Linked DNA regions of Homo sapiens. The protein of the gene in region 2 purifies or fractionates together with the protein of the main gene of each other region. This does not show direct contact. Each region holds a gene or a part of one and is shown on either strand. Other genes may lie near its edges. The genes, in order: STRIP2, NSDHL, ATP2A2, ESF1, EXOC1, POMT1 and AKAP12.

Region 1 (3,500 bases), on a different chromosome or scaffold from region 2:
TCTTAAAAAAAAAAAGAAAAGAAAGAGAATAATAGAAAATATCACTGCATCACATGCAGTAAAGGTAAATATTTTGTTAAACTTTTGTTCCAGTTTGTGTGTGTGTGTGTGTGTGCTGGGACGTAATGTAAAAGGTATCATTTTTCCAAAAAGTTTGAAAAACAATTTTTAATGGCTGTTCTTTATTCTGAGATTCTGTCTTTCATTTTTTGAATTTTTTAAAGTTTTTAAAGTCCTTACCTATCAGAATAAAACAGCAACAACCCTATGTCATTTGCCACTCTCCACCTTTTTCTTTTTCCCTACTGTTCCTTTTAATCCAAAAGTTTGGAAATCTTTGCTATAGTGGATTAAAACATGATTCGCCTTGTTTTTTTTTGTTTTTTTTTTTTTTGACAGAGTCTCACTCTGTCACCCAGGCTGGAGTGCAGTGGCGCAAACTCGGCTCACTGCAAGCTCTGCCTCCCGGGTTCACGCCATTCTCCTGCCTCAGCCTCCCGAGTAGCTGGGACTACAGGCGTCCGCCACCATGCTCGGCTAATTTTTTGTATTTTTAGTGGAGACGGGGTTTCACCGTGTTAGCCAGGATGGTCTCGATCTCCTGACCTCGTAATCCGCCCACCTCGGCCTCCCAAAGTGTTGGGATTACAGGCGTGAGCCACTGCGCCCGGCCAATTTGCTTTGTTGACAGTATAAATTGGCATAATGTTTTGGGGGAGCAACTTATATACAAAGAGACTTTAAAATGTTCATAAGATTTGATTCATTAATTTTCTTTATAAAAATCTATGCTTAGGAAATATCCTAAATATAGAAAAAAGTGTAAGTCTATTACAGTTTGTTGCATATAATAAAGGAAAATTAAAAACCATTTAAATATTCAATAAGGAACTAGTTAAGTAAACAAATAAATGTACATCCATTTATACAACCATTTAAACTAATAGTCATAATAATGTGAGAAGAATGCCTTTATAGTATAATATTAAAATCATAGAGTGACCACTCACATAGTGCTACGAAGTGCTAGGCCGTGTGCCTTTCCTATATTAACTCATTTAGTCCTTAAAATAACCCTATGAAGTAAGTCCTGTTATTATCCTCATTTTACAGATGGGAAAACTGAGCAGGTCATTTTCCAACAATTCGCTGACACCAACTGGATGTCCTACAGTTCAATTCGATTCTGACACTAACTACCTAGAATTAGCACAGACCCCCAAGTTAAGGGCTCAGTCCTACAAGGCCCTACGTTAGACACCAGCCATAGGTGGGATCCCCAAGCTATCTACACTTCAGCCTGGCCAACTACAAATTAAGCGGTTATCATGATCTTCCTTTCAGGTTCCATAATTTGCTAGAATAACTCACAGGATTCAGGAAAGCATGTACTTAGAATTATAATTTTATTATAAAGGATATGACTCAGAAACAGCTAAATGGAAGAGATGCGAAGGACGAAGTATGGGTTTGGGGTGATGCAGAGTTTCCTTATCTTCCCTGGGCAGCACTCTCCTAGCACATCTGTTTGTTCCCCAACCCAAAAGCTGCCTGAACCTAGTTGTTTCTGGGTTTTCCTATGGTGTTTCATTACCTAGACATAATTAAACTATTGGCCACATGACTGAACTTAATCTGTAGTACCCCTCCCCTCCCTGGATGTGGGGGTGGTGCTGAAAGTTAAACCCTCTAATCATGTGCTCCGTCTTTCCTAACATAAGTCACCTCATGAGCATAAATTCTGGTAAAGCTGACAGTGACTCATTATGAATAACTGACACTCCTATCACTCAGGAACTTCTAAGAGTTTCAGGAGCTCTGTACCAGGAACCAGGGGCAAAGAACAGTATATTTTTTATGTCACGCTGAGGCACAGAGAGGTTAACTTGTCCAAGATCAAATAGTATGTGACAGAGCTGAGATTGAAAATTTTAAAAATTCATATGTATGAACATATACAGGAAGGAAATATCCCAAAATGTTTAAGTTAGAAGATGGGATTATATTAAAACATATTTACTAGGATTATAAATTTATACATACAACGTCATGGGAAATGTAATCTTTACTACAACTTGGAGTGGAGATGTTGCATCATTTGACAATCCTAAAGTTGCAGAATATTAGAGCTAAAGAACCTCTTTAAAAATAAGGAACTATGATCCACAGCATGAGACTTGATCTATATCATACAGTGGGTTGATGACAGAACTGAAGCTAGAATCCAGTTCTCTTTGTTTCTGTCTGTCTCAATTTTATATAAATCAGCTAGATGCTCCTCTGGTCTGTGTTCATGTAGATTAGATATGGACACAGACCATAGCTTTCATATATGTTTGAGATCCTGGCCCTTTATTCAGACTTTCCGATTTTGTATAGGAATCCTCAGCCCCTCCCCACACTGAGACTCAAGTTTTGGCTTGGCGTAGGGTACCTCTGAGATGAAAGACCCAAATAGGACTCTCCTAACTGTCTCCCTGATCTAACCTTGGCCTCCATGAGGGGAAGAAGATAAATAAGGGTACAGTCTTCCCTTGGCAACCCCTTTTTCCAAGTTATCCCAGTTACCAACAAAATTTCTCTGTTACAGGGCTCTGTGGACTGTCCCACTCTGGAGTTTGAGTATGGAGATGCAGATGGGCATGCAGCCGAGTTGTCAGGTATGAGGTAGATGGGTCAGTAGCTAGTGGAAGAATGGCCAGGAGGAGAGGGAAGGGGCCTGTGATCTCCCTGGAAGCTTGTCTGTTCTCACCAAGTGGCTGTTGAACAAAGGCTGTTCTCCACATTCCTTTTCCTCTCCATCCAAGTGGTAAATATCTCTTTGTTTGTCTTCACATTTCCTTCTGTGATTCTCCTTGGCTATGGTATTCTTCATTCTGTCATTCTATCACTCTTTCCTGCTCACTCTTCTTTATTCTCTTTGAAAATAACTGATTTGGTGCACTCTCAAATCAGTTTTCTCTCCATCTTCTCCATATTCCTTCTCTTTTTCTCTTCCTGTCACCCATATCTTTGCCTGCCTACTTCTTTCTGCTGCCCTCTTTCTATCCCATGCCATCTCTTTTTCCTTTGTCTCCTCTACCTCCATCTTTTCCTTCTTCCTCTCGCAACTGCCCCTTATTAAAATCTCAGCAAAGTCCGAGGAAAAACTATAGTCAACTGGCCAGCTGAGCAAGGCTGGACATGTCACCTGCATCCATCATAGTAGAGTTCTGCTTGGATGTTTATGAGCTGGGGTTAAGTAATTCCATTCTTCTTTCAGTGCTGGCCTGCTTGTCTCTGTCTGGATTTTTAGCTTAGGGTAAATGTGATCTCCTCACATTAAGGGCCTCCATGTTACATGTGCTATGAATGCCAGTTATTAATAAACAAGCTTTGGGTGGAGATGTGTGAAATTTAAATATTCTGTCACATGGAAGTGATACTTTGAGGCATGCTTTTTCAGAGAAAAGAGACAAACAATTTTAAAGACGTTCTTGTGCATGAGCACAGAGAATAAA
Region 2 (3,500 bases):
ACCAGCAGGCTGGACGCTGGGGACCCTCATAAGAGAATATCTTCCTTTAGAATAGCATTTCTTAAGAGGTCGTGTGGTGTGTGTATTCCTATGTGTGTTCACATGGCCAGGTCACTATCAGAATAGCCAGTGATCTTTTTCAGACATCTTCCTAGAAGTTTGCGGGCTGCCCTTCACTTACAACAGAGAATCGCTGTCATAGTGAGATACCATGAATGCAAGTCTATTCTATCTCTCAGGTGTGATGGGATAGAAAAAATGTGTTATCCCTTGTTTTGAAACCAAGATCTCTTGATTCTTGGTTAGAATGTAATACATAGTGTGTCTGGAATCCACATAGCTGCAAAAGATGGTGATCTTTGGATTATTTTAAGAAGGCATGAAAAGCAAAGGCATTGCAGCAAATAATTTCTTCAGTGCCTCGAATGCGAGGGCAACAAAGGGATGCCCCTGATTCTCTTTCATACAGGATCATGCACTGTTTGAATTGTGATAATTTGTGACTTTTATTTTTTCTGACCTTCCTCTGTCAGAAACTCATTTTAACCAGCAGTGCCAGTGTCATCTTTGAGGGCGTCGATATCAAGAATGGAACTGAAGACCTTCCCTATGCCATGAAACCCATTGACTACTACACAGAGACTAAGATCTTACAGGAGAGGGTATGTACCTTGGAACTGGTTGAGTGAGCAGACTGAAGGGTTTAGAATCCTAAGAAAAATGTTTATGAACTTATGAAGTTTGTATTCTGAGGCCTACGTACCTGATTTGAGATGTAAAATTTGTGGGTGAAATTAAATTTAAAAATACTGTGAGAGGCCGGGCACGGTGGCTCACGCTTATAATCCCAGCACTTTGGGAGGCCGAGGTGGGTGGATCACCTGAGGTCAGGAGTTCGAGACCAGCCTGGCCAACATGGCGAAACCCCATCTCTACTAAAAATACAAAAATTAGCCCAGCATGGTGGCAGGCGCCTGTAATCCTAGCCACTTGGGAGGCTGAGGTATGAGAATTGCTTGAACCTGGGAGGCGGAGGTTGCAGTGAGCCGAGATTGTGCCATTGCACTCCAGCCTGGGGGATAGAGAGAGAGAGACGCTGTCTCCCAAAAAAAAAAAAGTTACTATGAGAACAGCTTTATGTGGCCAGACACTGTTCTGAGTGTTTTCCAGGAGTATTTTCCTTGTTTAAAGGTCACAATTATCGCATCATCACCAGATTATAGATGAAGACTGTGGTGCACAGATGCACAGAGAGGCTCAGAACCTTTCTAAAACTGTGCAGCTAGGAGGTGGCTGACCCCAGGCAGTCTGTCTACAGAGCTTACAGCCCACCCTCAATGCCATGGGAGCTTCCTCGCCTGCTATGGGAATTTACAGCAGTTGCAAGCGTGCAGACAGGAATCAGGCTGGAGGCACCTTCCTAGTGGCACTCTCACCCCCTCCCTTACTTAGAAAAACAAACAACGGAAGGATCTTGCTTTATTTTAAGGAAAAAGTACTTTTCCACTTGGCAAAACAGCTTCATCAAAGGGCACCTGATTTTAGTATGGTTGGATTCAGCCACGGTCGCTACCAAGCCTTCAGGCTGCTGGGGCTGTGGGGCCCCTGACAACTGCTAGCTGCAGATGGGGATTGTCACCCTGAGGCCATCCTAAGCTGCAGGCCAGGAGTGCTCCTGAGCCTGGGATAGCTCGTCTTAGCTGGGTAGCTGTGAGTATACCCCTCCCAGGTGTGTGCAGTGTATCACACCCACTGAGGTTTTCTCGCAAAGCCGGTACATGCTGTACTGGAGCTGAACACTGACCTGGCTACCTGAGAGCCAGCTGCCTCCTGGCTGTTTGCCGTATTTTTTTTTTTTTTCTTTTTTGAGATGGATTCTCACTCTGTTGCCCAGGCTGGAGTGCAGTGGCACGATCTCGGCTCACTGCAACCTCCACCTCCCAGGTTCAAGCGATTCTCCTGCCTCAGCCTCCTGAGTAGCTGGGATTACAGGCGCGTGCCACCATGCCCGGCTAATTTTTGTATTTTTAGTAGAGACGGGGTTTCACCGTGTTGGTCGGATGGTCTCGAACTCCTGACCTCATGATCTGCCCGCCTTGGCCTCTCAAAGTGCTGGGATTACAGGCGTGAGCCACCATGCCCAGCCTGTCTGCTGTTGCTTCAGCTCAGAAAGTCCTGGCAGAACTGGTCCACAGGGAGACACAAGGGCCACCCAGACCAGGGGTGGAGGCTTGAACTTTGGCAAGCCACAGTCCTGGCTCCAGACTATGCTGTCTTGCTCCTTGGAGCACTCATGTGCTCGAACTTGGCCCAAGGAGTACTAAAGCCTCCCTGCGCCTTGCAGGCAGTTCAGTCACCATGGAGACCCTGTGTATTCTCAACCCAATATGCCTGATACTGATTGCCACCAGAGCTGAGCCCATCTAGGCTCAGGAGCTTCAAATGATGGCCTTGGCCCAGACCATCAGTGTCTCGCTTATATCAACTTTTGGGTTCTCAACTGGAAATAAGCAAAGCCTGCAGATGACTCCAGCAGTAACTCACCGGAAGCCTCCTTTCAGCCGAGGTTGACATCCACTGTTGGCTTTATAACCTTCCTACTGATCATAAACCAAATGTGATGGGGAGCTAGGACTCCTTCACCTCTCTTCCCTTTAGTAGTAGAGATGAGCCTTGGTGGAAGCCATTTGAGGGTTTATTTAGTCATTTCCTCCATCGCTGTGGGGACCAGAGTCCTGGCGGGAAGAGGAGGGCCAGCTCTGGGAATCTGTTGAGAGGCAGCTTTTCCATTGTTGAGTTGCTTAAGATCACTGGGGCCAAAACATAGACCAGCACTTTGCTACCATAGAGTAGAAGAAACCCGAGGTGACATGACAGCAGGAACCGTACTTACCAAGCATACAGACACGCACTGAAGCAACTCACATGGGCCATCTCGTGTAATTCGCATGCAGCCCCGTCAGGGTAGGTACCTTTATGATCACCACTTTTACCCACGATAAAACAAATCCTTTGGAAAGTTTTGTTACTTTTGAGGCGAAACCCATTTCACTGTGCTTTAGACTCTTGAGTTCTAGTTTGTCCATGAAGTCACACAGAAGTCACCCTTTCCTTGCGGTGGCAACAGGAGCACTGGCTCTGGACCAGGCACTGCTCTGAGGACTTTACATGTCTCGGCCTCCTTTGCCCCCCAGCTGCTGGCCTGTTTCTCCCCAGGCATGGTCTTCAGACCCTTCACCTTCTCTGACCCTCTTCTGGGCCCACTTGGGTTTCTCAGAGCCCTCCCCTCGGAGGTGATACTCAGAATTGCCTGGAACAGACCCGGCCTGGTGGAAACGTGGGCGGCACATGCAGTTCAAGTCACTGGAGGCTCACGGCTAACTTGTTTGCCAGAACCTTTGGACGTTTTCCACAAACTGCTGCCGAGGCATGTCTTCTGGCAGTGTTGGTGGATTTTAGCCTTTGAACGCAAACCAGGGCCTTCTGATTTGATCTTACCA
Region 3 (2,173 bases), on a different chromosome or scaffold from region 2:
GGGAGGCACGGGGTGGCAACAAGCGACACTGATGGCTGGGCCTTCAGCCACCTGCCCATCAGGAAAGAATGTGGAAGTAAGTTTCAGGCAAGAGCTGCCTGACAGCAGGCACATTGCGGGGCTGGGCAGCTGCTGCCTCACTGTTAGGTGAGGGCCTGAGGCCAGGGATGTGCCAAGACCACGGTGCTGGACCTGGTCTTTATGGGTTGACCTGAGGAGGAGATGCTGAAGTGTTTTCACCCAGCAAAGCCTTCAGTGAAATGGAGCAAGTGGCCCTGCTCAAAACAGCAGTGGGCCTAACCCACTCCCAGCTGTCTGGACCAAGGGAAGTGGGTCCCTCCATGGGCTCCTCTGTGGGCTGGAGGGGTCTGAAGCTGAGAAACCATGAAGCTAACTAGGGGCTGTGCGACAGCAGGCCACACACTACTCAACTTTTTTTGTAAAGGCCACTAAGTCAAGGAACTGAGTCAGGAAAAGCTGAGTTTTGTTTGCACGGAATAGCAATAGTGCAGCACTCAAGTCAGTTTGCAGCCCAGAGATGCACTCCTTGCATTTGGCCCATTCAACCCATTTCTTGTTACACCTCATGATGCTCAAACTGGCAAAATTTACCCCCTGCCCCAAATGTTCCCTGCTGGGCAAAGCAGCCTCCCTTCCCGAGAGCCACAGCTGCCTGCGAGCAGCCTTGGAGGCTTCACAGTAAGGCTGATTTTTTTTTGACAGGGCCTCACTCTGTTGCCCAGGCTGGTTTGAGTACCTGGGCTCAAGCAATCCTTCTGCTGTGGCCTCCAAAGGGCTGAGACTTACTTACAGGCATGAGCCACCACACCCAACCACGGACTGTGCTTTTAAGAGTCGGTCTCCAGGTTCCACCTCCATCCCTTGAACGTGGGCCCTCTGAACTCAGCAGCACCTTGTCCTGCTTGATGCCTCCTAACCCTCCCCAAACTCCAACCATCTGCATTACATCTACTGGCCATCCCAGTAACCAGAGCCTAAGTACATTTTGAAGAATATAGTCGAGGCCTCACACCCTGGCTAAGGAGTAAGCTGGTTTTTGGGCTGTGCAGAGCCACGTCCTACTAACTGTGCTTTAACATCCCCTGCAGAGCTAAGTCTTAGCCACCAAGGACAAGACCAAGCAAGGGGGGGTGGGGGAGTGGGGAAGTGGCCTATTTAAGACGAACCTATCGATACCCAGAGTTCACTGGTTCAGTTACTTGCTTTCACTAGTTTTTAGCTTTTTAATAAATAAGTAGCAATGTTCTGGGATGACTCCTGGCAGCTGCGAACCCTCATTTTAGCAATAGTCTGCACAGCTCCTTCAGCCTGTTGGTCTGGCTGAAATGCCTCTCTCCCCACTCCGGCTTTTGTCTGGCTTGGGCCCTCCTGGTCATCTTGTCCTAGGCAGCCTGTGGAGGTCTATGAAAGCCACACCTCCAGCCAGCTGATGCTGCGCCCGAGTCACATGGCAGGCGCCACAGGCAACCCCGGTGCTCACAGGGCATCAGGGAGCACAGCAGCATCTGCCATGGAGGCGGCTTATAAGTTAGTGACATACAGTTATCTCACTTGGTGGCAGTCACCTTTAGGCTAAAGCATCCAAATCCCAGGAAGAAAATACTCACGTTAGTTGATGGATGTTGGAAGGCATTGGAGGAAAACACCACAGTTAGGACTGTTAATGACTTACACACTGTTGGTGAGACTCATCTCGAACATGCGCAAACATTGATCGTAGTAACGGTGGTGGTGGTTAGTGCCACATTCAAATAAAAATAGTTCTATACAATATGTTCATTTGGTCATGTGCTATTTACAGATTTTACAAAACACACACATACACACACATACACACTTGCCCTTATGTTCTCTATACCAGGCCAGCAGAAACTTGCATAAAATGTACATCACAGATGACAATTAGTGCCTGTACATTAAGAATACAATTCCTATGACTACCTACACAGCAGAGCAGGAGCCTTCTTCCCCTCAAGCAGAGTACAACTAAAGTTCTGAGCTAAGAACTGGAGAGAAAGTTGGACATGTCTGTTAGTCCCAGGTAAGCCACTTACGAGTTAAAGACAAGACAGTTATTTTTCTCTGTCCATTTAAAATGTTTTATTTTTTTAAAACTAGATGACGTGCCACTGAAATAGGCAATGTTGGCAAA
Region 4 (3,500 bases), on a different chromosome or scaffold from region 2:
TCAACTGTCAGTCATTATACCATTTTCATGATTTTTGAATATCATTTTTTTATTAAATTGAATTTTTTAAAAGTTAGTTTTGCTCTAAACAATATTCCTAAAGTCACAGAAGTGATAGGGTAATTACATTGTTTTCTAAGATGTTGACACAGTACATAACTATTAATATTTTAGAAGTTTGAGTATCATCAAAAATCTTCTCACTTATGACAATGGTACACATACCACACTTTGGGTTATATAATAATAAAGTGTTGCATAAGAGACTTAAAGAGGTCTTCCATTTCAATGTTTTTAACAATATCAACTGCATTCAGAGTATTTATTCATTCAATAAGTATCTGCAGCCGAGCACAGCTGCTCACGCCTGTAATCCCATCATATTAGGAGGCCAAGATGGGAGGATCTTGAGCCCAGGAGTTTGAGACAAGCCTGGGCAACATGGCAAAACTCTTTGTCTCTACAAAAATACAAAAATTAGCTAGGCATGGTGGGGTGCACCTGTGGTCCCAGTGACTCGGAAGGCTGAGGTGGGAGAATCACCTGGGCCCAGGAAGTTGCGGCTGCAGTGAGCTGTGATTGCACCACTGCACTCCAGCCTGGGCAGCAGAGCGAGACCCTGTCTCCAAAAATAAAAATAAAAAACCCCAAAAAGTATCTGCTTAGAGCCCACAATGTACACAGCCTTGTGCAAGATAATGTGGGGTTACACAAATATAAATGTCTCTATTCCTAGACAGTATTGCTCTAGTAGTGACTGTAAACATTACTACTTATCCAGCTACTTCAAACAAAAAACAAAAAAAAACCAAAAAAACTGCTTTACCATTTTCCCCCAATTATAAACATAATGAATGATCATTACAAACCAAAAAAAGTTAGGAAAATATGGTTAATAAATAAAACAAAGGTGACTAGCAGTAATTTTTCATTCAAAGATAACTGGTTATTTTAGTATACAACCATATCCCTAAATTTCTTTTCTTTAATTTAAATACTAATTTGTTTAAAATAACTGGTCATATCGTTATTTTGGAACCTATTTTTAAAACTTCATAGATCACAGATGTTTGCATATATTTAATTAATCTCTTAATGATTTGTTACCATTTTAATTTCTATTTTCATTTTTTGAGACAAGGTCTTGCTCTGTTGCCCAGGCTGGAGTGCAGTGGCACGATCTTGGCTCACTGCAACCTCTACCTCCTGGGTTCAAGTGATTCTCGTGCCTCAGCCTCCCAAGTAGCTGGGATTACAGGTGTGCACCACTATGCCCAGCTAATTTTTGTATTTTTAGTAGAGACCGGGTTTTGCCATGTTGGCTAGGCTGGTCTCAAACTCCTGACCTCAAGCAATCCACCCGCCTCGGTCTCCCAAAGTGCTGGGATTATAAAGGTGAGCCACTGTGCCCAGCCAGTTACCGTTTTATTTTAAAAATAATGCTGCAATGCACATTCTTTGCACACATCCAATTATTTATGTAAAATAGATTCTGAGGAGTGCAAGTGCTGGGCATGAACATTTCATGATGACAAATATCACACTGCAAGTCCTCACATCACCTTTACTTCACAGCACTTAAAAAGGCCCTTGCACACAGTAATTGCTGTAATAACTGATGAATGGATAATGAACAGAAGATTATATATGGAGCCGTGTAATCCTTATTTATGAGTAATGCCTTTCCTAGACTGTGGAACCAACAAAATTACTGCAAGCAATGTGGTGGGGTAGAAGGAGTCAGAAGACTTGAGTTGCAGTTCCAGGTCTGCATGTCCTTACATAAGTCACTTTAATCTTGTTCGCTGATACAGTCTTATTGCTCAAGGTAACTAAGAAAATTAAATGAGAAAAGATATGTAAAAAAGTCTGTAAAATCAATCTAAAGGATTATATAGCTATGTTATATTAATTCAGTGCCCCAAATGAAGTGGATGCTAGACTAACTTACCTCACTAATTCAGTGTCAAATCAACTTTGCTGCCGGTCCCACTCCAATCTTATTCTTCAATTTTAGTAACCGGATTCCTATCCTTTCTTCCCACACCTCAAGAGGTCTGCTGCCTGGTTCCACTACAAATGTAAAATGGGATACCACCACTGACTCCCTAGTCCTTGCTATCCAGAATTCACTCCACTGCCTGATACCTTCTACCCTCACAGTGTGATCTCTGCTTATCAAGACCTCTTGGCCTATCAAAACCTCTTGGCCTATCAAGAACTCTTGGGCTATCAAGACCTCTTGGCCTATCAAGACCTCTCGGCCTATCAAGACCCCTCCTTGGATCCTGTAATCACAGGTCTGGCTCATGTGAACTACTACTGGTTTTCAGTTACATCTTCAACTATCAGCAACATCAACACTCAAAATTGCTTGCTGCTGGAGGTGACAAAAAATTTTAATTAGTAAACACGTAATGCAAACTAGAGCCAGCTGTCTCTCACCTAGTTCCAAACAATCATTTCTCGCTGCTACTCATTTTGGCCCTTCAAGACCTTATTATCTAATCAAACGGGACTACTGACCTCTTCTGAACATGCCCAATCACATCTTTGCTCAAAAAGTTCTTTCCATGTAGCACACTCTGGTCCTCAAACTTAAATTTTTCCACACCCCAAAGTAGTGCGTCCCCTATGAATTTTTCTGATTACCACATCTTGAGTGACTTCTTCCTCCAGATTTCCATGGCTTTCTGCTAAACATCTTTTACGGCACTTACTATTATTGCATTTTGTATTATGGTTCTGACTTTCTTCTACTTTAGATCTATATTGTCCAATATGGTAGCCAGTAGTCACATGTGGTAACGGAGCACTTGAAATGCGTTTTGTCTAACTTGACATTAATATGAAAATAGTATTAGTATGAAATGAGTAGAAAATGGGATGTAAAATATACATTGACTTTTATATTGATTACATATTGAAATAATTTTGATATATTGGGTTACATAAAATATATTATTTAAAATAATTTTACCTGTTTCATCTTACTTTTTAATGTGGTTACTAGAAAATCCAAAATTATGTATTTCTACTAGACAATGTTGCTTTAGACAGGGGCCACTGCACAAAGTTTAGCAGGCTGTTATCCGCACAGGGGCATTTATAAAAGGACAAGAAGGGCTAAAATCAAGGCCATCCTACACTCACCAAGCCATGCACTCTGGAGGGGGCTGTGTCTGCTCAGGGGCAAAAAATCTGTTGCTTCAAAGGCGCCATCTCTTCACCAAAGTGTGACCCCTGGGAGCTCTGTGTGTCCAGAGAGCATGCCTTTTTCTAATTTGCATAAAGGCATCATATAAGCTAGCGACAGCCCTGAGATGGGTGACGACGCCTTACTCATATTCTGCCTGCCACATACTAGTGGCAAAGCAACTGAACAAATTAATGAATGAGTACTCAACTCTACTTACCCTCTTATTTTATTTTTGAGACGGAGTCCTACTTACCCTATTTATTTTATTTTACTTTTGAGACAGAGTCTCGCTCTGTCAGCC
Region 5 (3,469 bases), on a different chromosome or scaffold from region 2:
CCTCTCTTCTATATATGGGCATATTGTATGTGTGCTTTCTTTAATATAAAAGTGTTGTCATACCTGACACACTATTTTTGAAGCTGCTGGACTCTATATAATCTTAGTATCTTTCTTAGTTAGTTAATATAGATAAACATAATCATTTTTAATGATTGCATAGTCATCCATATGTCATTATCCATTTACCAAATCTTCTATTAATAAACATTTAGGATTTTTTTAGTTTATCTATCTTTGTATACTTGTCAAATAATTTCTTTAGGGTAAATTACTAGAAATGGAATTACTGGGTCAAAGGATTTATGTATCTCAAGTCTTTTCCCAAATTGTGATACAGAAAGCTTATGTCAGTTTAGTGCTATGAGCAGTTGCATTACAGCTGTACCAATGCTGGGTTTTACTAGGTATTACCAATCTTTTTATTCTTTGTCAACCTGATAGGCTATAAATTATCTCACTATTTTATTTTGCATTTCATTGATTTTGTATATGGTGTCTTTACTTTACATGAATTTTCAAATTTTATCTCCAATTTATTTATCTTTCCCCTTAACAGTCTTCTAAATTTTGGGCCATTCTTAGCAAGGTCACACTATTGCAAAATTATTATTTTTCTATTAGTTATATTTTCTTTAGTACTTATGATTGTATTATTTGTTTGCTTTTTACATTTTAAATAATTTAGCAATTTAGAATTTGACTGCAAGATGTAAAGTAGGAACTTAAATTTCATATATTAAAATGGTCCAGCCGGTTGTCCTAACACATTTTGAATAATTCATCATTTCTCCATTGATCTGAAAAGCTACTTTTATTATATACTGAATTTCCATATACACATGGGACTGTTTTAGGATGACTTTTTATTATGATTAGGTAGATCTGAAGACTCCCATTACAATATATTGTATTAAGTCCAGAAATGTGCTTAATTCTTAAACTTACAAATGAAAAAAAATTAATAGTATAAATGTTTATAGCTAAATATGGTCATACTCAGAGATGTTATTTTATTTTTTCTGTTTTGGTTTTAGTGGAGAAAGTAGCAAATGAAAGCCAGAAGACCCCCAGGGATGTGGTTATGATGGAAAACTTTCACCATATTTTTGCAACTCTTTCTCGATTGAAAATCTCATGTCTAGAAGCAGAAAAAAAAGAAGCCAAACAAAAATACACAGATCACCTTCAGTCTTATGTCATTTACTCTTTAGGACAACCTCTTGAAAAACTAAATGTAAATATATTTTCATTCAGTATTTTTCCTACTTTTGAACCTATACACATAAGTTTGCATATGAATAACCTGCAGACATTTATCTTAAATTTTCTCATGTGTTGGTGCACAGGGGACTCAGTTATTGAAGCTGCCAGTGTGCCAGACACTGCTAGATGCTATATATTTTATTTCTTCTTTCTGTACATTATTTTTATACATTATTTATCTACTATATTTTAATGATAATTGTACTAGTATTCTATTATGCATTATTTCTTTTAATTCTTATAAACAATGATGTGTAAGCTAAGATAATATTATCCCCATTTCACAAATGAAGAAACTGAAAGTAAAAAAACTTGCCCGACATCATAATAGCTTATAAATTACAAAGCTGGGGGATGAACCTAGATTAGGCTTTGCCGTTACTCTTTCCCATTTCTTACTTTATAAATGACCAAGTTTACAATGTCTAGGTGGAAATTTCAAAAATATTATTAAGATAAAAGAAAAACCAAAAATTGCTTTCTACATTGCCTTTTACTTTTCTTTCCCTTCTTTTTTTTTCCTTACTTGAGTCATTTCCCAGAGTAAGTCTGTTAATTAAAGTTAAGAAATGATGATTTTAGGGAACTTTACAAGATAGTGAAAGCTTAAATGAACCTTTTAAACTAACTTTGTCTGCAATATAGTTATCTTTTATAAGCTCTTAACTTGAAGTTAGAGTAAAATAGCGCGGTGACTCACACCTGTAATCCCAGCACTTTGGGAGGCCAAGGCAGGCGGATCACGAGGTCAGAAGATCGAGACCATCCTAGCTAACAAGGTGAAACCCCGTCTTTACTAAAAATGTAAAAAAAAATTAACTGGGCGTGGTGGCACGCTCCTGTAGTCCTAGCTACTTGGGAGGCTGAGGCAGGAGAATCACTTGATCCTAGGAGGTGGTGGTTGCAATGAGTGGAGATCACACCACTGCGCTCCAGCCTGGGCGACAGAGCAAGACTCAGTCTCAAAACAAAACAAAAAAAAAGAATATGTATCTGCTGTCAACAATTCAAAGAAATACTTGAAAGACATTTAATCAAATGCAGAACTAATTCCTTATAAAACTTAAGAACAGACAAATATTCCTTTAACTGGATAAAAGATCTATCTCAGGCCTAAAGCTTACATGATACTTAACTGCAACGTTAGAGACATTCCCTCTGAAATCAATTTAAAGCAGAAATATTGTTAGATCCTTTATTATTTAGCATTGTTGTTGAAGCACTAGCCAGTTCAACAAGACCTGAAACATAAATAAGAGATATGGAAAACAGAGACGAGATTATCACCACCTGTATATGATATGTTGAAATTACTGGTGTTGGTCAAGTGACAAAATTTAAAGCAAATATACTGAAAAACAATGTATTTCCTGTCTACCAATTAAGAGCTTATGTAAAAACAAAATTTTTAAAGCACTAAGAATAACTTCTCAAAGAATGATAATTTAATGAATAATCACTAAGAAAATTTTAGAAAAAAGTAATGAGAGGGAATGGGGTTTGTCAGCATTAATTCTTTGTATCGTGCTCAAATACAGTTATGCCAGTCAATAAAAGTATATATATAAAAGAAGACCTGGGAATAATAGTTACAATAATATAACAGAGTCAGTATATTTAATATAAAAAATCTTACTAAAATCAATAAGAAAAGCACTAAGACCCCAATTTATAAATGGGGCAAGGGGCTGAATCACTACTAAACATATAAAAGCAGGTTAACCTTATTTATAGCCAAAGAATTATAAAATAAAATGACAAACTTTTTTTACTCTGGCAACTATTGTTATAAATTGTCATAATGCTTATGATGGTATAGTGAAGTAGCAACCTCATACACTGTTGACAGAAATATAAATTGGTTGAGCTTTCCTAGGAAGCAGTTTGTATATATACTGAAGAATCTTTCAAATACTTAAAGTTATGCTCTTCAACAGAGTAATTATAGTCCTGGAAATTTAATCAGTAAGATGGGTAAATACTTATATACAAAAAAAATTTATGACAAATATATTTATAGTAGATTTTCTAAAGTCTCACTAGATTTGCCAAGTCCAAAAAAAGAAGGGGGAGTGGGATGTTAAATATCTAGTACTAGAGGAATGAATAATAATTGTGGTTCAGTCATTGTGTGAAATATTATGCAGCCATTAAAATTTATATTTAGGAAAAAACAATATTAAATGTAAAGTGGGACATGAAA
Region 6 (2,191 bases), on a different chromosome or scaffold from region 2:
GTAGTTCACTGCCCAGCCACCGGCACACAGCGCCCCAGCCAGCACCCAGCGCAGCCAGGCATCTATAGGAAAGGGCTCGAGCTACACCGACTCTGCTGCTCCCACAGGCCGGGTCTTCTCTCTCTTTTGCTTTTTTAGAGAGAGGGTTCTTACTATGTTGCCCAGGCTGGTTTTGAACTCCTGGCCTCAGGTGACTCCCTCACTTTGGCCTCCCAAAGTGCTGGGATTACAGGTGTAAGCCACCGCGCCCGGCCTGGCTGCCTGTGTTACCCAGCCATTTCCAGCGCATACGGGCAACATGGGACCAAGAGGGCAATTCCTGCCCAATACGCTGCACTCGACTGGAGACACCTCTAACGCAACATGGGAACTTAACATTTTGTCTCTTGGGAGACAAACATAATTTAAGATTCCACAATACAGAAACAAAGAGGCCGCGTTAAGGGGTAGGTTCCTATGAAGTCGGTTTGTCACTTGAGGCGGTGAATGCTCAGCGCACACCTGTAATCCTAGCACTATGGGAGGCCGAGGCAGGAGGATCGCTTAAGCCCAGGAGTTCAAGAACACCCTGGACAACACAGCAAGACCCCATGTCTATATTAAAAAGAAAGAAAGCCATGTGGGAGAGGTACTAACCCTGAGGGAGGTCATGGACATTTCTTCGCCGTCGGAGCAGGTACCACAAGGACAGCAGGGCGTAGATGGCCAGAGCGAGGCTGCCCGAAACCCAGATCACTATGTTTCCAAGTAGGTGGATCTGAGCCTAAGGGAACATGGGAGATGCTGTTAGCCACCTGCCCTCTGCTCAGGGAGGGAAGAGAAGAGAACACAGGAAAGGAATTCAGATGCACGCACTACTTTAGCAGAGTGAAAAAACGCCAGGCACAGCCTAGCATCCACTAGGCCTTACTACTACTGTGGACAGGTCTGCTCCTACTCAGACCTTTCATTAAAAGCACTGATGCCAGCCGGGTGTGGTGGCACATGCCTGTAATCCCAGCACTTTGGGAAGCTGAGGTGGGCAGATCACCTGAAGTCAGGAGTTTGAGACCAGCCTGCCCAACGTGGCGAAACCCCGTCTCTATTAAAAAGTACAAAAATTAGCTGGGCATTGCGGTGGGCACCTGTAATACCAGCTACTTGGAGGCTGAGGCAGGAGAACTGCTTGAACCTGGGAGGTGGAGGTTGCAGTGAGCCAAGATCACGCCACTGTACTCCAGCCTGGATGACAGAGCAAGACTCCGTCTCTCTCTTTCTCTCTCACATACACACACACACACAGCACTGATGCTCTCAATTTTGTAATTGGAAACTGAAAATTGGGAGCAGATGACTCCACTTTGTAACAGCAGCGCTGTCCACGGAGGAGAATGCAAAGTGCGCTCAGAGCTCGGGGTGGGGCGGCCTCTGGGCCTGAGCCTCTGCCTTCAGTGCACATGCTGAGCCGACCTACCCGCCTCTGAGGGAGGAGGAAAAAGGTGGGCATTTCCAGCGTCTGCCCATTCAGTGAATATTTATGGGGCGCTGACTGTGCGCCCGGCCTACCAATGCTTTCACTCTGCCGGGTGGAGAGACGGCACGCACATCAGCAAAGCACCGGTAAGCTCCACCACCAGGTGCCACACGGAAAATTGAATGGGAATATCTTAAAACCACTTTCGCCAGGAAAAGGGGAACAATGTGTCTCCACAAAAGCAATCAAGCCGGGTTTCCTTCAACAGGCACACATGCCACACCCCTACTCCTGGCTCCAGGTTGCCAAAGCGTTTAGAGAAAACCAAGTCACAGGCCTTTGTCAGGAAAAGCTTGGGAGAAACCCAGCACTTTCTAGGGTGCAGCGGCTGCTCTTAATGCAAGGAATTCTCAAGAAACAGGATGAATCTATGACTGTCAGCTGTCAGCATCGCTCGCTTACGCTGGTCCTGGGGTGCAGCCAGTAGGCAATATTGGTGTCCAGGGTGACCCACTCCAGTGGGCTGGAGCTGTACTTGTGTTCCGAGTCATCACTTCTCAGCGCCAGCATCCTCCACTGGAACAAAGCAGAGGCCTCTGAGATTGAGGATGGGGGATGCCTCCCGCTGTGCGTGGATTTGGTCAAAGGAGTACACTGCTGCCCCTTGCACGTGGACTGGCCCAGCTCAAGTTCATTCGGATCATGCATCGGAGGCAGCATGATGAGAACCTGGATTCC
Region 7 (3,500 bases), on a different chromosome or scaffold from region 2:
CACCTCCTGCACCGGAGTGGCCTCCTCTGTGGTGTCTGGGGAGTCGGTTAACTGGGAGACTGCTGACACCATTTCTGTGGTCTCTTCAGCAGCAGATGCTTCGGTTCCTTCTTCGGCACCCAATGGCCCTGCAGTTTCTGCAGCTGTCACAGCTTCGGGGGTCAATTCCGCCTCACTAACGACCGTGTCGCCCCGGGCCTCTCTGTTCTCTGGCAGAGGTTCAGTAACCGTGGGGGGTTCTTCTTCTGCAATTACTTCTCTTTCCAATACCTCCTCAGTTAACAGTGCGGCTTCAGCTTCTACTTGTTCAAGAGGTTCTGTCACTGAAGCAGATATCCAAGAAGGAGACCTTTCTTCAATAATGGTAGCTGCCCTCGTCCCGTCAGCGACAGCTGCTGCCATCATATGAACCTGACTCTCGCTGAGCTCCTTGGACACCTCAGTGGCTGCCTTCTGCTCGGGCTGCTCTGCGCTTTTTTGGGCTTGCTGTGCCTCCATTTTCTCCCTTTCTACAGCATCATACTCAGACAGAGGGACCACGGCCGGGACATCAGAGTCATCTTCGTTGGCCCCTGTTGGCCCTGCGTCTTCAACAGGGGCTTGTTCTTGTTTCCCATCTGGCCTTTTCTTCCTTCGTCCAGGAATAAACTTCTTGATTGAGACCCAGGATTCTTCTTTACCGGGTTCAGTGTCTGGAGTGGAATGTTCTACACCAGACCCAGCTATGGAGTCTTCGCTTTTCTCTTCCAGCTTGGACTTTGATTTTTTTCTTGGCGTGACTAACCTTTTAAATGACTCCCAGGTGGAAACGCCCTCCCCTTCGGTAGGGCTTCCAGCTTGCTCCGGGGAGGAACTTCCCTGCCCTGGATCATGTTCTTGGGAACCAGCAAGGATCCCGTCTGTCCCCGTCTCTTTGTCTTTTCCGGCCTCATCAGCTTTCTGGTGGTCTCCTCCCATTGCTTTTGGTCCCCCTTCCTCATCAGAAGAGGACCCTCTCCTTGCTCTTTTCTTGGATGATCCCACACAAATTAAAGCTTCCCAAGATACTGAGGTATCCACCTTGCGCTTTGGTTCTTCCGGCTTTGGCTCTTCCACGCTCCCTTTCATTTCTTCTTGCATTTCAGAGGCTGTGCTCTCGGTGGAAGACAAGGTAGCGCTCTTGACCTTGTCCAGCTCATCTTCTTTATCACTTTCCGAAGGCCGTCTAACACGCTTCTTGGGCGTCACCATCTTTTTGAATGATGCCCAGGGAGTGACACCTTCTCTTTTTTTCTCTCCATCGGAAGTAGCTCCTTCTTCAGCTTCCCCATCCTGCTGCACCTCGGCTAAGCCCTTTTCCAGACACGTGATCTCCTCGGGCTCCTCAGGGGATGAGGCAGAGCTCTCGCCCTTTTGCTCCTCCTGGCTGTCCGGAGAATCGGCTGGAACCTGAGTGTGCTCCCCTGATTCCTCGTCTCCTCCTCCTCTTTTCCCTTTCTGTTTCTTTCCAGAAAGCTTTTTTAAGCCAGTGCTGGTAAAAAGCTTCTTTAGTGGACTTCCCTGCACCTTCATTCTCTCCTGTGATGACAGCATTTCCACCTCACTCACAACGCCTTCGGGGGGTTTGGACAGCACCTTCTCATCAGGACTGAGGTCAGCTCCCTGTGTAGGGTCCTCTCCGGAAACACACGTTTCTTTGAGCTTCACCAGCTCCTTGGCAGGTTCAGCTTCCTGAGGTTCTGCATCCATTTCAACCAATTCTTCAGCTGGCACAGACCCTGCTGTTTCTTCCACCTCCGTTTTCTGCTCTTCGGTTCTCTCCTCCACGGTGCTGACGTGGACTTCGGCCACAACCTCTTCTTGGTGGACTTCTATTTTCTCATCAAACACTTCTGTCGCCAACGGAGCAGGTTTCTCTTCAGAAGGTCCCTGCGAGCCACTGACTTGCTCCTCTGAGGGCAGCTCAACTTTCTCATATTCAGCTGATAACCGGGGCTCGTGGGCACTTTCTGCCGGCTCCTGTGGGTGGGCTTGCTCGGAGGCGGTCAGTTTCTCGGAGGCAACCTCTGCCTTTCCGTCTTCTTCTGTGTCTACTTTTTCTGGCTCTTGTTCCTTTTTCTTCTCTGAAGCTTCCACTTCATCCTCCTTCGGCTTCCTGAAACTGGTCTTTTTGCGCCAGCCGGCCCAACCTTGAGTGAAGAATTTTTTGAAGGTTGATCCTGTTTCACTGGTCACGGGACTAGTCGGAGATTCTGCAGACTTGCTAGGTTCTTTTTCTTGTTTCTCTTCTCCTTCCTCTTTGCATTCCTCCACTGCTTGGCCAGATTCGGCTGGGGGAGAAATTTCTGCGTGGCTTTGCTCACGCTTCAGGGTCTCTTCGGGTTTCTCTGTAGATTGTTTGGGTTCGCTTTCTTTGGATGCTGCTTCTCCAGCCCCAAGGCTGGGGTCCTTGTGGTCGCCAGCCCCTGCTGCTCCCTCCCCTTCATCTTTCTTCACAGTGAGTAGCTGGACAGTGTCAGGCTTCTCTGTCTTATCCTTTTTCACAGTGAATTTAAAGCCAACAAACTTAAACACCTTCTTAAATCCAATATCATTAGCCTGGGACTCAGTGGGTTGTGTTAGCTCTTCTAAATTGCTTTCTGAAGAAGGAATCTGTTCGATTATTTCGGGTGTCTCCTCCTGCCCATCATCTGTGATGTCGTGAACAACCGCTGACTTAGTAGCCATCTCTTTATCGGAGTCTCTTTTGCTCACATCTTCAGAGTCTCTCTGTCCAACTATTAACAAAAAGGGGCGGGGGGGTGGGGAGAAGAGAAAAGGTGATTACAATACAAGAAAATTGTTTTTCTCCGACAGGGCCTCACTCTCTTGCCCCGGCTGGAGGGCAGTGGTGTGGTCTCGGCTCACTGCAGCCTCAACCTCCCAGGCTCAAGGAATCCTCCCACCTCAGCATCCCGAGTAGCTGGGACTACAGGCACATGCCACCATGTCCAGCTAAGTTTTTTATTTTCTGTAGAGATGAGATCTCACTATGTTGTCCAGGCTGCTCTCCAACTGCTGGGCTCAAGTGACCCTCCTGTCTCAGCTTCTCAAAGCAGTGGGATTACAAGTGTGAGCTATAGTGCCTAGCCCAAGAAAATTAACTTTTTTTTTTTTTTTTTTTGAGACAGAGTCTCACTCTGTCGCCCAGGCTGGAGCACAGTGGCACGATCTCGGTTCACTGCAACCTCTGTCCTAGGTTCAAGTGATTCTCCCACCTCAGCCTCCTGATTAGCTGGGATTACAGGCGTCTGTCACCATGCCCAGCTAATTTGTTTTTTTTGTTTGTTTTTTTTGAGATGGAGTCTCACTCTGTCACCCAGGCTGGAGTGCAGAGGCACGATCGTGGCTCACTGCAAGCTCCGCCTCCTGGGTTCACGCCATTCTCCTGTCTCAGCCTCCCGAGTAGGGAGGCTAATTTTTTTTTTTTTGTATTTTTAGTATAGAGACGGGGTTTCACCGTGTTAGCCAGAATGGTCTCG

Evidence for each region.
Region 1: the proteins of NSDHL (region 2) and STRIP2 purify together in Homo sapiens (co-immunoprecipitation; one large-scale study listed by IntAct). This does not show direct contact.
Region 3: the proteins of NSDHL (region 2) and ATP2A2 purify together in Homo sapiens (affinity purification with mass spectrometry; one large-scale study listed by BioGRID and IntAct). This does not show direct contact.
Region 4: the proteins of NSDHL (region 2) and ESF1 fractionate together in Homo sapiens (co-fractionation; one large-scale study listed by BioGRID). This does not show direct contact.
Region 5: the proteins of NSDHL (region 2) and EXOC1 purify together in Homo sapiens (co-immunoprecipitation; one large-scale study listed by IntAct). This does not show direct contact.
Region 6: the proteins of NSDHL (region 2) and POMT1 purify together in Homo sapiens (affinity purification with mass spectrometry; one large-scale study listed by BioGRID and IntAct). This does not show direct contact.
Region 7: the proteins of NSDHL (region 2) and AKAP12 purify together in Homo sapiens (affinity purification with mass spectrometry; one large-scale study listed by BioGRID and IntAct). This does not show direct contact.

Annotation. Positions count from the first base shown.
Region 1 is NC_000007.14:129,437,432-129,440,931, forward strand, and holds part of STRIP2 (striatin-interacting protein 2), read left to right. Parts: intron 1-2,590; coding exon 2,591-2,660; intron 2,661-3,500. UniProt on the Homo sapiens protein: Plays a role in the regulation of cell morphology and cytoskeletal organization. Required in the control of cell shape. Calmodulin-binding scaffolding protein which is the center of the striatin-interacting phosphatase and kinase (STRIPAK) complexes.
Region 2 is NC_000023.11:152,862,063-152,865,562, forward strand, and holds part of NSDHL (sterol-4-alpha-carboxylate 3-dehydrogenase, decarboxylating), read left to right. Parts: intron 1-533; coding exon 534-662; intron 663-3,500. UniProt on the Homo sapiens protein: Catalyzes the NAD(P)(+)-dependent oxidative decarboxylation of the C4 methyl groups of 4-alpha-carboxysterols in post-squalene cholesterol biosynthesis. Also plays a role in the regulation of the endocytic trafficking of EGFR.
Region 3 is NC_000012.12:110,347,247-110,349,419, reverse strand, and holds part of ATP2A2 (sarcoplasmic/endoplasmic reticulum calcium ATPase 2), read right to left. Parts: 3' UTR 2,028-2,173; coding exon of another isoform or gene 2,008-2,027; 3' UTR 1-2,007.
Region 4 is NC_000020.11:13,778,420-13,781,919, forward strand, and holds part of ESF1 (ESF1 homolog), read right to left. Parts: intron 1-3,500. UniProt on the Homo sapiens protein: May constitute a novel regulatory system for basal transcription. Negatively regulates ABT1.
Region 5 is NC_000004.12:55,898,648-55,902,116, forward strand, and holds part of EXOC1 (exocyst complex component 1), read left to right. Parts: intron 1-1,037; coding exon 1,038-1,237; intron 1,238-2,187; exon of another isoform or gene 2,188-2,507; intron 2,508-3,469.
Region 6 is NC_000009.12:131,519,918-131,522,108, reverse strand, and holds part of POMT1 (protein O-mannosyl-transferase 1), read right to left. Parts: intron 2,030-2,191; coding exon 1,916-2,029; intron 764-1,915; coding exon 637-763; intron 63-636; coding exon 1-62. UniProt on the Homo sapiens protein: Transfers mannosyl residues to the hydroxyl group of serine or threonine residues. Coexpression of both POMT1 and POMT2 is necessary for enzyme activity, expression of either POMT1 or POMT2 alone is insufficient.
Region 7 is NC_000006.12:151,347,967-151,351,466, reverse strand, and holds part of AKAP12 (A-kinase anchor protein 12), read right to left. Parts: intron 2,757-3,500; coding exon 1-2,756. UniProt on the Homo sapiens protein: Anchoring protein that mediates the subcellular compartmentation of protein kinase A (PKA) and protein kinase C (PKC).